Homo sapiens: one gene and its partner. The protein of the gene in region 1 purifies or fractionates together with the protein of each later gene. This does not show direct contact. Each region holds a gene or a part of one and is shown on either strand. Other genes may lie near its edges. The genes, in order: OSR2 and TLE3.

What was found.
Region 2: the proteins of OSR2 (region 1) and TLE3 purify together in Homo sapiens (affinity purification with mass spectrometry; one large-scale study listed by BioGRID and IntAct). This does not show direct contact.

Annotation. Positions count from the first base shown.
Region 1 is NC_000008.11:98,947,283-98,950,173, forward strand, and holds part of OSR2 (protein odd-skipped-related 2), read left to right. Parts: intron 1-890; coding exon of another isoform or gene 891-1,139; intron 1,140-1,234; exon of another isoform or gene 1,235-1,404; intron 1,405-1,556; coding exon of another isoform or gene 1,557-1,670; coding exon 1,671-2,326; intron 2,327-2,891. UniProt on the Homo sapiens protein: May be involved in the development of the mandibular molar tooth germ at the bud stage.
Region 2 is NC_000015.10:70,087,864-70,091,675, reverse strand, and holds part of TLE3 (transducin-like enhancer protein 3), read left to right. Parts: intron 1-3,812. UniProt on the Homo sapiens protein: Transcriptional corepressor that binds to a number of transcription factors. Inhibits the transcriptional activation mediated by CTNNB1 and TCF family members in Wnt signaling.

The DNA of each region.
Region 1 (2,891 bases):
CAGCCAGATCCTGCCTTGCCAGAGCGCTCTGTCATTAGCGTAGCCCCCTAAGTCTGCTCACAGATGGAACCATAGGCAATACTTCATAACGCGCTGGAGAGGACAAGTCAGACGCAGGAAGGGGTTGGGTGGGAAGGGAAGGCTGGAGTCTCTCCTGCCTTCCTGCTGGGTTCAAATGCCAGGCTTGGCGGTTGGTGGCACAGACTGGGAAACGTGACTCCTACACCTGGGGGTCTGCCCTCAGAGGGAAGGCCCTGGTCCCCCGAACTGGCAGAACTCCTTTCTAAAAAGGGGCTGGTAGTGGGAGAAGGTGGGCCCGCTGTGAATGTAGGTGAGGTGATCCCGGGAACCTGGGTCTGAAATCAGACCTGTGTTGCCATTGGGAGCACGGAGAGAGGGGAAGCGCCCTGCTTAGGCCCAGGCCGGGCGTCCTGGTGGTGGGACCGCAGCCGCACTCACCTCCAGGCCAACGGACAAGGTTCCTGCAAGCCAGCAGGGCCACTCTGTGCTTGGCCTACTGCAGCTCCCCTGCAGCTCCTTTCCTCTCCCTCCCCGGAGCGCTCTCCTCTCTCCTCTCCCCTCTCTTCTCTCTCCTCTCTCGTCTCCTGGGGCATCCCGGGTGGAGGGATGTAGGGGTCGCTCCTCGGTGCCAGGCCGGGAAGCAGCTCAGGCCTCCCAAGAGCTTGGCGCTCAGTCTGGGAAAAGGGGTTCCTCTGGCCTCAGGGACGTTCTCCGCCCCCACCCCACCCCCTGGGAGCCTGAACCATCTGGAAGGGATCTTAGTCGGGGGTTGGGAGGAGAGCCCGTGGATAGGAGGAGGGGGCGATTCTAGGCCGAATCCAGCCCCTGAGGTGTCACTTTTCTTTCCTGCGGCCCGTCACCGCTGATAGATGGGGCTGAGGGCAGAGGAAGGAAAAAGAAAACCTCCGAGGTCAGTGCGGGGCGAGGTGAGCCCCTCCCAGGGCCCTCTGGCCCAGGAGGATGAAGCGCGCCGGCTTCGCTCTTGCACGCCGGCTTGCCATCCGGGTAAGCGCGGGAAAGGCGGCCACAGGGCGCGGCGGCAGCGCAGCGCGTGGGATCTCACGACCCATCCGTTAACCCACCGTTCCCAGGAGCTCCGAGGCGCAGCGGCGACAGAGGTTCGCCCCGGCCTGCTAGCATTGGCATTGCGGTTGACTGAGCTTCGCCTAACAGGCTTGGGGAGGGTGGGCTGGGCTGGGCTGGGCTGGGCTGGGTGCTGCCCGGCTGTCCGCCTTTCGTTTTCCTGGGACCGAGGAGTCTTCCGCTCCGTATCTGCCTAGAGTCTGAATCCGACTTTCTTTCCTTTGGGCACGCGCTCGCCAGTGGAGCACTTCTTGTTCTGGCCCCGGGCTGATCTGCACGCGGACTTGAGCAGGTGCCAAGGTGCCACGCAGTCCCCTCACGGCTTTCGGGGGGTCTTGGAGTCGGGTGGGGAGGGAGACTTAGGTGTGGTAACCTGCGCAGGTGCCAAAGGGCAGAAGGAGCAGCCTTGGATTATAGTCACGGTCTCTCCCTCTCTTCCCTGCCATTTTTAGGGCTTTCTCTACGTGCTGTTGTCTCACTGGGTTTTTGTCGGAGCCCCACGCCCTCCGGCCTCTGATTCCTGGAAGAAAGGGTTGGTCCCCTCAGCACCCCCAGCATCCCGGAAAATGGGGAGCAAGGCTCTGCCAGCGCCCATCCCGCTCCACCCGTCGCTGCAGCTCACCAATTACTCCTTCCTGCAGGCCGTGAACACCTTCCCGGCCACGGTGGACCACCTGCAGGGCCTGTACGGTCTCAGCGCGGTACAGACCATGCACATGAACCACTGGACGCTGGGGTATCCCAATGTGCACGAGATCACCCGCTCCACCATCACGGAGATGGCGGCGGCGCAGGGCCTCGTGGACGCGCGCTTCCCCTTCCCGGCCCTGCCTTTTACCACCCACCTATTCCACCCCAAGCAGGGGGCCATTGCCCACGTCCTCCCAGCCCTGCACAAGGACCGGCCCCGTTTTGACTTTGCCAATTTGGCGGTGGCTGCCACGCAAGAGGATCCGCCTAAGATGGGAGACCTGAGCAAGCTGAGCCCAGGACTGGGTAGCCCCATCTCGGGCCTCAGTAAATTGACTCCGGACAGAAAGCCCTCTCGAGGAAGGTTGCCCTCCAAAACGAAAAAAGAGTTTATCTGCAAGTTTTGCGGCAGACACTTTACCAAATCCTACAATTTGCTCATCCATGAGAGGACCCACACGGACGAGAGGCCGTACACGTGTGACATCTGCCACAAGGCCTTCCGGAGGCAAGATCACCTGCGGGATCACAGGTGAGGCGGGCAAGGAGGATGGCTGGGAGAGGGAAAGCGAATTTGTCCTGGACACACCGAGTCCTGATAGACATTCCCAGTGTCATTATAATCCCCTGTGATCTAAAATACACCCTCAGTCACGCTCCTCAGCCCGGTTCAGCTAATTCCCAACATCTACCCTTTCTTTCCCCCAGCGGCTCTTGCTACGTTCTTGTTTGGAATGAGGGAGGGCCTTTCCTCAGTCTTGGACAGGAACAATCTGTTGGCCTTAGTCCTGGGATGGTTATCCTGTCTCCTCCCGGTGCTGTGGGGAGTGGTGCAGGCAGAACCCAGGTACCCTGGGGTGCCGGTCCTGGCTGCAGTCGGGCTACTTCTGTTGGGTTTCGTCCCTCCCCCCACCCCCCACCCTCCACCCAGGTGCGCCCCAGAGCCTGCCGTGGGGACCTTTCTTTTAAGCTGTATTTGTGGGTTGAGAGGGGGAGGAGGTCTTGAGGTCACCGAATTTACAAACAGCTCCCACCTCCCTTCCGCGACCTTAAACTCTGCATTAATACAAGGCAATTGAAGGCATTCAATAATGTAA
Region 2 (3,812 bases), on another chromosome or scaffold:
TCTGTCTCTCTCTTTTTCCAAGCTGTCAAAATCCCAGAGAAGTAATAAATGGTTTCTCCTCCTGCTCTTCTGCCTCCCTCCCTAATTATGGTAAAGCAAAGATTACAGAATCACAGGCCTGGCCCGGGACTTCAAGAGGTCACCCACCTCCACCAAGCCCCCTGCTTCCAGGCAGAATGTCAAGGGTGGTTCAGAGAGTCTGGGAAGGCAGTGATGACTGACCGGCTCATCACTTGCCATCTTGTTTGTGCAGAGGCTTTCCAGTGTCAGCCACAAATAACAAAGCCAGCTTAAAACCAGGGGCCCCAGAGCAATTGCCATGCATTGGATTTGAGGCACTGGCTCTCTGAGAAGCTGGGTCAGGCAGCCTTTTCACCCACTGTTGGTGAGCACTGACATTTTTGAAAGTGGACTTGAGCCATTTTGATTTTGGGGCAGTGTCGTGCCGACACAATACAGTCACCTTTTTCTGTGAACTGAACAACCTTTCCTGTAAGTTTCTCTTTGAATCTTGGAACTGGAAGAGCCCTTTGGCTTCTCATGCAAACTTTTCAAGTTACAGATGAGGAAACGGTGGCCCAGAGAAGGGAAGCTTATGTACTCAGTCATACAGTCCCACGTTAGTGGTAAAGCTGCTACTGCTGCTTCCCTTCCAACCCAGGACTCTTTTCTGTAAGACTCAAGAAATGAAGAGTGCTCCTTTTCTAGTGTATTCTGTGTCTTTAATTACTATTGCTTCTTTCTGTGTTATTATCCAAACAGGCTAAGGCTACAAAACTGGCCCCACCAAAGTCCAAAGTGCCCCATTTCGGGTTGTATAATCATATCACTGAACCCTTATTGTCCACAGTCCTGTTTTGAATTGCCAGCTATTTGCACAACTAATGATTTGATGTGTGTAATAATAATACATAATGCATAACTAGCAATCCCAGAGGAAAGATTCACAGACCGGGAAAGGTGGTATATATAACCTGTGAACTTTTTACCCTAGCCATGGGGTGCCATAAACACAGGGCTGAGGTAGGAAATGGAAAATCCCCATTTGTCACTCCCCTCCCCTCCCCGCTCTGGATCTTCTCATCTAAATGATAAGGGGCTCACCTGGAAGATCTTGAGGCACACAGAAGTTTTGTGACCACGGTGAAGGTGCAAGGTACAGGTGGCCAGAGGGAGCTACCAGGCAATGAGGTTACAAAGGACTCTGCCAAGGAGTTGAGCCTATCTTGATAGGAGAATGTGGGACCACTTGCAAAGTAGAAGGGGTCAAAGGTCCTTAGACTAGGGAAGTGCCTATTTGTGTGGCATCTGAGTTGAGCTGTGAAATTTTTTTTTTCTTTTTTGCCAGAGTGCTAGCATCCAAGAACCCTCCCACCCGGCCCCATGCCCTGGTATCTGTCTTGACTTTTCCTGCTATATTGATCTTCCCTGGAACAGACTGTAATCACGAGTCCTCTCACTGAGTGGGTGCCTGCCTCGCTCAGCTTTGGGGTCTGCTGGGCTCCAAGCTCCCTGCATGCTGTCTAGCTAGAGGGAGGTTGCCCCACCCCTCAAGACTGCCTTTGGACCCCTTTTCTCTAGTTGCCAGTGGGAGTGGTAGAGTGGGGGTTTCAGTGCTTTTGGGGTCTTTTCCTTCTTGTGCATTTGTCATTGAAATGACCCTGGGAGATGAGCAAATGGCCCCTTGTCCTTACTTTACAGATCAACGGGTGGGAACCTGGCTCCTAATTCGGGACTCATTCTCTGAACTCTCTTGGACCAGGAGCCCGTGGCAGACACGGAGTTCTTCCTTTCCTTGAACTCCTCCTTCCCACCTAGGCTGTTTGTTTCCATTTTGTTGAAGGAGTGAGTCAGTCAAGGAATAAATCTCCTTTTGCTTTCTACGTGGGAGAATGTCATTCTGTCTCATTGTTTGTACAAAATACTGGGACACCAGGGGCAAAAACGTGACAAAGACCTAAGCTTGGCAGTGTTTTCCCCTGTGATCTGGCACTCATTCCTCGTCTCATTTTTGTAGGTATGAAGGAAGCCCCTCTGCTGAGGTCTCTATAGCACTTAGTATGTAATAGGTGCTCAGTAAACATCTTGGTTTTTCTTCAAAATTTACTCAGGTTATCTGAGAGTAGAGTTCCGATTCCCTGAGCCCTGTGAGTAGGAAGTGGGGATTTTAGTTGTGGGCTGGCCGCCCGCTCTGCAGGCTTCCTCCTATGGCCCAGCATCCAGTTTCTTCATCAGTGAAATGAGGGGGTTGGATTCATTCCCAAAGCAGTTATTAGGGGACTGGGATGTGCTGGGTGTGGGCTGGGGTTGGTTACACAGCCGAATAAGACACCATTCCCTCTGCGGGGGAGTCGGATGTCTAAAGAAGTAATTGCAATGCAGTGAGGTAAGTGCTAATGTGGCCCAAGTGTCATAGGAGGAGCACCCAGCACAGAACAGCTTATTCTTCTTGGGTGAGAGCAGACTTCACTGAGGGCTTTGCTTGGCGCGAGTCTGAAAGGGAGGGTAGGGTTTATGAGGCAGAAGTCGGCAGCCGAGGCCCCTCCAGGGTGGCAACAGCTCGCGGCAAGGCAGTGAGATATGTTCTAGAAGCCACACGTCTTCGGAATGATGTGGGGCGGGGACTGCACTTGGGAAGTGAGGCGAGGTGGTGACATTTTGCAGCAGAGCGATCTCCAAGGCCCCTCTGCCCTTGCAGTCGCGGCTCCCCACCCGGTGGCTCCCTGCATCCCTGCATGGCTGGCTCTCCAGGGCTGGCCTGAGTCCATCTGCCGCGGGGTGGGGGTGGGGGCGGGGGCGGGGGCCCGCTCTGGGCCGTTTGTGGCCTGCTCTGCCTGCTTTCCTACCGTAATATGCTGCTTTGAACTTTATTCCCCAAAGTGGCATTGTCTCCTTTCTCATATTGGTAATTCTGTAATGACTGGTTATGACCCGCCCCCTCCCCCATATTTAATTCTCATCAGCCCAGCTCTCCACTTTGCTATTAATGATAGCAGCCAGCAAAATAGCTTTCAACATGCCATTGACAGTCTGGTTTAAGAGAGCACTTGAAGTAGTGCTAGACAGCTGAAAGCACCCATAATTGTGTACCAGAGTGAGAACTGCGTGCTCAAGGGCCTTGTTTTTATATGCTTAAAGGGACAATATCTTGTTTTCAACAAATGCTCTCTGAGACTCACAGCCAAGATGCTTTCTTCCTTTTTCCTTTTCCTTTCTTCTTTTGGCTTTCTCTTCTCCTTCAAAATACATATTTAAAAAAAATTCTTTATAAAATAATTGTTCCCTTCAAGTTGGGGTTAAGGAGAAACTTAAGGAAGGGGGAAACGTCCTGCCGCCATGTAAGCGGGGAATATTTGGTGGGTTTGTTGTTTTGAAGCATCGTCCTTTGCAGGCAGCAAGCTGTGGGTCAGCCTTGCCCTACTGAGGGTCCTTAGGACCTTGCGTTTCTCAAGGAGGTAATGGGAGAGTCTGAATTCGCATCAGCATTGATTTTGAATTCTTTTCTTTGCTAAGGATGTTGCACAATCAGTGGGCTGCAGAGCTGTCACTGTGAATGTTTAGGCAGAGGCCACCTTTTGGGGGAGGGCTGGAGGAGAGGGGTCACCGTGTTGGAGAGTCAGGCCATGACCGCTAAGGAATCAGATTCTAGGAGGCTGTTTGCTGCAGAGTTGATGGCCCAAGAGGCCCGTCTGGAAATCAACAGGGTGGGTGGGGCAAGGACTTGTATTCTTAAGTACAGGTTCACACCAGGCTTGGAGGGTTAACCAGGGGGCCCGGCTAGTCCACCCGGCAGATTTTATCTGAGAACAAAT